Regions from separate parts of the Homo sapiens genome. Here region 2 is linked to region 1. The links come from fine-mapping of genetic effects on gene expression. Tissue or cell type: prefrontal cortex. Region 1 holds a variant in brackets; the other region holds the start of a gene. All regions are shown on one strand. Distances are from middle to middle.

Region 1 (4,398 bases):
AAGCCCATATACTTCACTATTATACTATACTAGTGCAACAAATATGAGCTACTATGGATAGTGATTATATTAAGAATTAAATGTAATGAAATTCTTAAAACTCCAGTTCATTGTTTTCATGAAACACAAATAGAACACAGTAGATATGAGGAATTGCTATAATTAAATCTAAACTCAGTTCTCTAAACCAGTGTTTCTCCAAGTGTGTCTTGAGATTACCTACAAAGAAATCATTTGGAAACTCCCTACCTCAAATCTTTGGAACCACAATCTCTTGGGGGCAGAGCTACAGAATCTGAGATTTTAAATAAGTTCCCAAGGAGAGCTGGTTTCCCAGCTGTAGTCTGAGTCACATGCCTATAAATTAAACATATTTAGTAATCATTCTTTTCGTATTTCTCAGACTGATCTAGTGTTTTTCTCAATGTTATTTTTTATGAATTTAGAATACACTATTTTGAGTAGCTCAAGTAGAATTGTCTACAGTTTGAGAAAATAAAACCTATCCTTTAAGCTTTCGTAAGTAGGCAAATAAAATAATAATCTGGCTTAAAATCAAAATCATTATGATATGTGGTGGTGAGGGAAGAGAGAGACCCTCTCATATTGTTTTATATTGTTTTATACTCAGAAAAGGAAAGAAAAGCAAAACTAAAGGCAGGTAGCCTGGTGCCTAGGAACCAGACCCGAAACCAGGCCTGGGCCTGCCTGACCTAAGCCTGGTAGTTAAAATTAGACCCCTGATCTAGCAACTGATGTTATCTATAGATTCCAGACATTGTATGGAAGGACACTGTGAAACCTCCTGTTCTGTTCTGTTTCACTCGGACCACTGGTGCTTGCAGCCCCTGTCACATACCCCCTGGCTTGCTCAATCGATCACGACTGTCTCATGCGGACCCCCTTAGAGTTGTGAGCCCTTAAAAGGGACAGAAGTTCAGCATCTGACGAGCTCGGATTTTAAGACACTAGCCTGCCGATGCTCCCAGCTGATTAAAGCCACTCCCTTCCCTATCTCGGTGTCTGAGGGGTTTTGTCTGTGGCTTGTACTGCTACAGTGGCTCAAGAACCCAACTGGACAAATAAAATAAGCAAACAATTTCATTTTAGAGATAAAATTAAATTATAGCTGTATCTCTGACCTTCCTGTTGTACTTCCTCAGTTTAAACAGCTGAGTAATTAAGACTTTTTAAATGTAGAATTTACTGACACAGTAAAGTCAGTTATATATTTATTTATTTATTTATTTATTTATTTTCAGACTCAACAGAGATAGGACACTGTGAAGTTTTACAGGAAACCATTCCTATTTGAGGAATTCCTCTGATTCAATGTTGTCAATGAGCACTTAAACGTCAATGACAAAAGTTTCCACTCTGGCTATGATGGACTGGCATGTTACCACCCAGTACAACTGGAAAAGTTGCATAAACTTTTTTTAAACAAGTTCTTTGAAAACACAGGCACATTATCAAAGGAGGGAGAACTTTAGGGGCTAACGTGGCTGAGAGAGGGGAAGCAAAGAGTTGAGCCCAGTATCTGTTGCTGCTTTTTCCCTTGTGGTATTTGCCAATTTGTAGGGGAGAGAGAGAGAGAGAGAGATACAGAGAGAGAGAGAGAGAGACCCAAGTAGAGCAGAAGCTGAGAAAAAACTGGCAGCAAAGGCTCAGGAATTGAGCAGCAGTGTAAGCAGTCTCATGGGGCTGGGGTGGGAGAGAAAGAATTGGAGTATAGGGCCTGCTGAAGAAGAGTGTCCGTGGTAAAAGACCAGTCCTTCAGCTGTGATCCACAAAGGGCTACATCTTAGGAGTAAAGACAGACTGACAGCAAACAGACTTTGAGTCAGCTCAATCCCAGGCTAGT[T/C]GGAAGTGATTGGCAGTACCCTGTCTGTCAAAATCAAAAGTAAATATCCCCTGGAGGAGGATAACCTTGTACAGAGCCTCAAATCATTGCTATAGTTTTTCATACATAATATCTGGCAAGTAACAAAGAAAGTACTTGGCCAGATCAAATCACTGAAAAATCACAAGGAAAAAAAAAAAAGACAATGGAAAGTGACCAGCAGGAGATCCGGATACACAGCTTATGGGTTTTTTAATGATTACTATGTTCAAGATAATAAATGGCAAATAGGTAATTTCATCAAAGAATTATAATCCATTAAGGAGACTCACATGAAATTCTTAAACTGAAAATATTATGCAAATGAATAACTTAGTAGATGAATTTAAAAGCATGTTGACACAGTTGAAAAGAGGATTAGTGAGCTTTAAGGTACTAGACTATATCCAGACTAAAGCTTAGAGAGCAAAAGAAATACAGTAAAGAGCTAAAAGGCAAATGGAATATGGTGAAAAGTTTAGTACACATGCATTTGGAGCTCAAAAAGGAAAGGGAGAAGAGAATATGACAAAAGCAATATTTGAATAGATAATGATCAAGAATTCTACTAAAGTGGCTGGGCGCCATGGCTCATGCCTATAATCGTAGCACTTTGGGTGGCTGAGATGGGTGGATTACTGAGGTCAGGAGTTTGAGACCAGCCTAGCCAACACGGTGAAACCCCCTCGCTACAAAAATACAAAAATTAGCCAGGTGTGGTGGCATACACCTGTAGTCCCAGCTACCCAGGAGGCTGAGGCAGGAGAATCACTTGAACTTGGGAGGCAGAGATTGCAGTGAGCTGAGATCATGCCACTGCACTCCAGCCTGGGCAACACAGCAAGACTCCATCTCAAAAAAAAAGTATTCTTCTAAAATGAAGGAAGACATTAATTCACAAGTCCAAATTTCTACAAACCTTAAACTGAGTAAACACAAAGAAAATTGGACTAGGCACATCGTATGAAAGTGCTGAAAATGAGAGAAAAAAAGAAAATCTTGTAAGCAGCCAAAGAAAAAGATACATTTTTATCAAATAAGTGGTAATAGCAATGAGAATGGCTTCTCAACAAGGTGGAAGCCAACGGCAACATAGTAACATCTTCTAGCGCAAAAGTCAGGCACAGTGATAAGAGGAGCTAAAGTGTTCAAAGGTGCTGGCATTCTCTGGGAAGTAGTAAAAGGACCAATTGATATTAGACTATAATAAAGCAAGAATACAAACTGTGTTATCTAAGATAACATCAAAAGCTTAGCAAAGTAATGTGTATCTAACAACTAACATGAGGAAAAGTGAAGTAGTAAAACTACTTAATCACAAAGAAATGAAAAATTAATTTAAAACAGGTTGGATAGATAAACACAAGGTAGTAGATATAAACCTAATATAATAATAACTACATAAATATGAATGAACTAATATTCTAATTAAAAGAGAGAGATTGTTAGACTGGAGTTAAAAGTTCAATTATATAATGCACACCTAAAATATAAAGGTACAAAAAAGTTGAAACAGTGAGAGATAGAGGCATATTCTGCAAATGTGAACCAAAGAAAGCTGGTGTGATTATAATAATATCAGACAAAGTAAACTTAAAGACAGGAAGCATTACTGGAAAGTAAGAAGAACATTTTGTAATGATAAAAGTGCCAATCTAACAGGAAGATATAAAAGTAGTAAATTTGGATGCATCTAATAAAATGCCTCAAAAGTGTAGAGAAAATCTGACAGAAATTAAAGAAGCAATCTAAAAATCTACAAGCAAAACCAGAAGATTAAAAAAAAAACAGACTATAGAGGAGTTGAATCACAAGACAGGGTCAAATATTCACAAGATTCCACCTAAATGACACACAGAATACTCTGTATCCAACAAAATACACATGCATTTCAAATATCCAGCGAATACTAGCAAAGCATAATGATATAGTGGACTATAAAGCAAGTATCAACAAATGTCAAAAAACAGAAATTATATGGAGTATTTTTTTCTAACAATAACAAAGAGATAGTTAGAACACTCCCAGATGTTTGCAATATAATCCATGGCATATGGGTGACATTACAGTGGAAATAAGAAAATGTTTCAAACCAAATTGAGAAAATATAACATCTCAAAACTTACAGGATGTCACTAAGCCTTAAACACATATATTAGAAAAAAAAAGTAAAGATTGCAAATGAATAAACAGAAAATCTTTCTCAGTAAATTAGGGGAAAAAAAAATTAAGAGCTAAGAAAACCAAAGAAAAGAAACTATAAAAATAAGGGCAGAAATTAGTAAAATAGAAAATAAATAAATAAATAAAAGCAACAAAGCCTAAAGGTTGTTCTTTCAACAAAAGCTAATAATGATCTCTGTTGGAGTAGAGGTTATTGAAAAAAAAAAGCTAATAAAGTTTATAAACTTATAGTAAAACTGATTGATTTAAAAAGAGAGAGAAAGCATATATTACCAATATCAGATATGAAAAAGGGACATCATTTCCTTCAGATATTTAACAAATAAGATATT
Region 2 (4,398 bases), 59 kb before region 1:
GATCCGGAAGATCACCACCACAGTCAACAGGATCCTGAACGGAGGAAGAGGGAGGGAGAGAGGTTCTCACGGGCTGCGTCACTGACAGGAAACCCCTGCTCCTCCCTTCCCTTTGCTGGTGTTTACCAGTCTTTTGACTGGGGAGCTGTCCATCCCGGGCTGGTACTGAACTAGGAATCTGGGAAAGCTTTTTGTCTCTTCCTTTTCTGCTGAGTGCTGGTAGGCTGGGAATATTTCATATTATAGAGATCCCAGGTACACACATCTCCATACACTGGACATAGTCTACTTGCAACAGATAGATTTCATCTCTCTATATAGAATGTATAGAAACACAAAACACACCTTCACTCTGGATATGGCAAATGCACACAGAATACCTTTACAGATGGTGCATGCTTCGAGGTCTACACACAGGGTGTGTAAATAACTACTCCATGTGTATATTTAGTTTATTCTCAACATGAATATTAAATTTAATGCTTTATATAAGCAGATGGCTATGAATATATATTCATATATATTGAACTCATATATATATAAAGCTAGGTAGATAGAGACATAGATATAGATACAGACCCAAAAATGGCAATTGGGTGTGTAGGCTCGGTAAGTTTACACCGCCAAATAAGTTTGGTTTAGTAATTATTTGTTGAGAAAAGAGGCATCTGCTCTGAAGAGCAAATCCATCTCCCCATTTGCCCTTTTCTGTCCAAATGCAATCCTGCCTTCTTTGTAGATTCTATTTAGGGAACCAAATGGAGATTGGCTCTGACTCTGGAGAGTGGAGGGACCAAGACTGAGCCAGCGGCTCCTTTTCTGATGTGGGAAGAGTGAAGCCCCAGTGGTGCTTGATGGGGAAGGGATGGGCAGCTGGTTAGGAGTAGCTAGAGGAGGGGGGCATCGCGGGGCGTCGGGTAATCCCTCATCGCCGGGAACACCGGAGCCTTGACCTAGGACGATGGGGAGGAGGCAGAGGACGGACTGGGGATTGGAGCGGGAGACTCAGTCCAGGTGTGAGAAGGGACTCCCGGGGGCCGCCCGACGGGGCCCCCTGACCGCCGGCTTGGCGCCCTTACCTCCCGATCATAGTGGAGTGCTGCTGCACCGCGGCTTCTAGCAGCCTCTCCAAGATGGTCCATTCCCCCATCGCTGTGCATCCGGAGGCAGCAGACAAAGACTGGGCAGCACCGGGCACGTTCCCGCTCCTGGCCCCTCCCCGGGCCGCACTTCCAGAATGGGAGTGAATTGCCTCCCAATTAAAGAAGCAATTTTTTAAAAAATCCTCGAATCCCCCTTTCCTTTTATTGTACTTAAAAGAGAAGAAATGGGGAAAGAAATCCAAGCGCGTCCCGACCGATGGGGCAGTTGGCGCGGTCTAGAGAGAGGGCACGAACCTCGGGCGCCGTCCGGGGTTCGGGTCTGGATCCCGCGGACGCCGGGACGAGGGGCGGGGCGGGGTGGCAGCCTGCAGGTCCTCCAGCGCTCGCCCGCCCAGGAGAAGTCTCAGCGCCGCTCTCCGCCGCAGGTTGGGGGCCAGGGGAGGGTCCGAACACCGGCTCTGTTCCTGCTACTTCAGCGGGCACCTGGCGCTCCGGCGCGGCAGCCTGCGAGGCCAGGGCCGAGCGCGCGGAGCCGAATGCTGGGCTCGGGGATCCGCGGCCGCCGCCTCTAATCCGCCCTTAAGTAGTCTCCGCCTGCGTCACGCCAGGTCGGCGGAGGGGAGCAGAGCGCGCCGTGCGGCTGTCGCTGCGCGTCGGAGCCCGAGGGGCCGGGGACGCGCGCGGGGGGAGAGGGGCAAGAGTCCTGGAGGCCCGGCGGGGAGCGGGGCGATTTCGAAAGGAAGGACTGCAGCGCCCCTCGGGGCTTCTCGGGGAGCCCAGGTAACCTCACCTGACCGCCAGACCCAAGCAGGCGGAGGGGGAGCCGGGAGCGGACGCGTGGGTGAGTGGGGAGGGGAGTGAGTAGGTATCTTCTCTTCTCTCGGTGCATCCCTCACCTTTTCGCTTTTTGCCTCCTGGAGACAACTGAAATTCCTTCCCTAGATGGAGATGCTGGCTGAGGGAGGGCGAGTGGGGGCGACCACTTTTAAATCTCCCTTAGGGGACAGAGTGGCTGAGAGTGCTTCTGCAGAGTGGCTGCGGTTCGGTGCCTCTGTGGATCCGACAGTGAAGTGAGAAAGGCTTGATGGGAATCCATTTAGGCTGAAGGGTAAATGCAGGTGTGGAGCTGTCTCTCGGTATAGGGGTCAGGGCACACGAGCGCATCTAACAGGTGCCTCGCAAAGAGCAAGTGGGGTGGCCATGGTTAAAGGTCTCGCTTCCCCTTGCACTAACCCAGATGCTCGGCTCTTTTTAAATTATTGCTATTATTTTACTAATGGGAAGGGGGGGCGGGGTACTCGTCAGGTAAACTGTGATTTAATCTGAATTTAAGACCCAGTATTCTGCTAGCAGAAACAGAGCCACTCACAGCCTCGCCCTGCCCCCACTTGCCTTACTGGGTTTGGCTTTCTCCCCTCAACCAGCAGATCCCGGTTTTTAAAATTCACATTGTGTTGTCAGTTCTGTCTAGAGCAACTACTTAATTGGTTGCTGAAAAATTGAAACAACCTCACTAAGCTGCTAATTAGCCCAGGGGTCAGTATTAGGAGACACTGTAGCTGGCAGTGTTTGATGTAAATGTACCAAAAGTCCAATGGGAAAGTAATTGTCATCCTTTCGAAAACACGACCTTGAAAGGGTTGCTAACTTGTCCTAGGCATATAAAGGGACCTAGCCTTAATTATCCACAGGGATCATAGCACATATGTATATTACATAAGCCACACCATGGTGAGCCTTCACTTCTGGAACAACCGAGGTGGTTGGGTAGTTGGTGGCCCAGGGACTGGGAAGAAAGGTGCAGGGCATGGCCCTCAGTCCACTCACAGTGTACTTCTTCATAAAATGATGTTTAAACACACGGTCTAAGCTTCGCCGCCAGAAAGATCACTGAAATCCTCTGCTAGGGTTGACATCTTTACCCCAAGAAAGCAGCCTTTCACTGCAAAGGAGTAAAAGAGTCCACTAACAATGGAGAGAGGGATAAAGTGATTTATTAGTTTCCTTCTGAACACGGAGGAGGTTCAAGGGTGAGGACGAATGGATACCCTATTATCCAGTTAGCTTCCAGATGGAATGGTGATCCCCTAACCCAAACTTGGTGTGTTTTCCCAGGTTTCCCTTCTACTCCCCTTGGCCCTAGGTCCCTGTATTCCCTCCTTGTCTGGCAGACTCTCTTATAGTAAATGATCTTAGCCAAGAAGTGAATGAGTAAGTCCAAAGGGAAATCTGTTTAACATCTTTAAATGTCCCAAAATAGGCTGCACAACTCAAAATTGTCATTTTATGTGTTGGCTTTCCCAAACCGTTAAAGATTATGATCCTAAGAACATAGACTGCAGGAAATGCAATTATCAGACACTACGCTATGACTGAATTGTTGATCATTTGTGTATTATTTTGAAATATACTTTAATATGCCATATAGATTCCACATATAAACATGTGCAAACAACATAGGTGTATAAGTGCACAAAGACGCATATATATAGAACCTATATTTTAAAACTCATCAGTTGGACTGTGTAGGCTACTTTTAAATAAAAATCTTAGTCTCACCACCACACTTCAGAAATAACCATTTTTATTTTTAATAACCACTCATAAATTTCACACTTACTACATTGTACTTCCTCCTTCAAGTCCAGTCAACTCCATTTTCAATTAATAATTTGTTCCGATAAACAAATGTGCATTAAATGTGAAATGGTTCTCTGTGGATCCGGGCATCTCTCAGTTTCCTCAGGGCATTGTATCTTCTTGATAGATTCTGATTATCTCAACTCTCCTCTGATTGAAAACCCCCGTTTAAGGCAGCTGGGAAGTTCTTTCCATTACATCTTATTTAAAAGCCATTCTGTTTATTAAAATAATAGTTTTGGATGAGAAACAATGAAATTCGTAGAATGCTCATAGAATAACCTTTGCTGCACAACAGACTGTCTGGGGATCTTCATTAAAAAGACAGATGCTGCGATCCCATCCCAATTCTGCTAAATTGAAATCTATGGAAACAAGATTGAGGTAGCTGTGTTATTAACGGGTTCTCATCCACAGCTCCAATAACAATAAAAACCTGAGAACTTTTAGTTCCATGACTATTAGGGCAGGAGTGAATCCTAGGGATGAGGAAATCTATCATCCATTTGTTTCATAGTGTTAAAACTGACCCAAAGCTTAGCTAGCTTGCCTAAAATCATATGGGTAGCAAAGGAAAAGCTATGAAGAATGTGGTATTCAGAATCCTAGAGAAGATCAAAATTATTTAAAAGTATGAAAAAAATGTGATATTTGA

Direction of the effects. Alleles are on the strand shown, and positions count from the first base shown. SD is a standard deviation of normalised expression in the study named.
For the expression in prefrontal cortex of the gene that starts at base 1,746 in region 2, C is the high allele of the variant in region 1 and T is the other (small effect, 0.36 SD a copy in BrainSeq).

The links. PIP is the estimated chance that this variant, and not a neighbour inherited with it, causes the effect. A credible set is the group of variants that fine-mapping cannot tell apart.
Region 2: GJD2-DT starts here. The variant in region 1 is the best candidate, but not a certain one, in a credible set for the expression of GJD2-DT in prefrontal cortex (BrainSeq, PIP 0.64).

Annotation. Positions count from the first base shown.
Region 1 is chr15:34,812,295-34,816,692 of GRCh38, forward strand. It overlaps GJD2-DT (GJD2 divergent transcript), which reads left to right. Exons shown (of 3, transcript NR_120329.1): 3 at 1-629. Among named protein-coding and RNA genes, the nearest start is that of ACTC1, 19 kb to the left of the region's middle. The variant T/C (reference allele first, on the strand shown) is at 1,865.
Region 2 is chr15:34,753,339-34,757,736 of GRCh38, forward strand. It overlaps GJD2-DT (GJD2 divergent transcript), which reads left to right and starts at 1,746. Exons shown (of 3, transcript NR_120329.1): 1 at 1,746-1,883. It overlaps GJD2 (gap junction protein delta 2), which reads right to left and starts at 1,660. Exons shown (of 2, transcript NM_020660.3): 1 at 1,080-1,660; 2 at 1-34. The coding sequence starts at 1,150.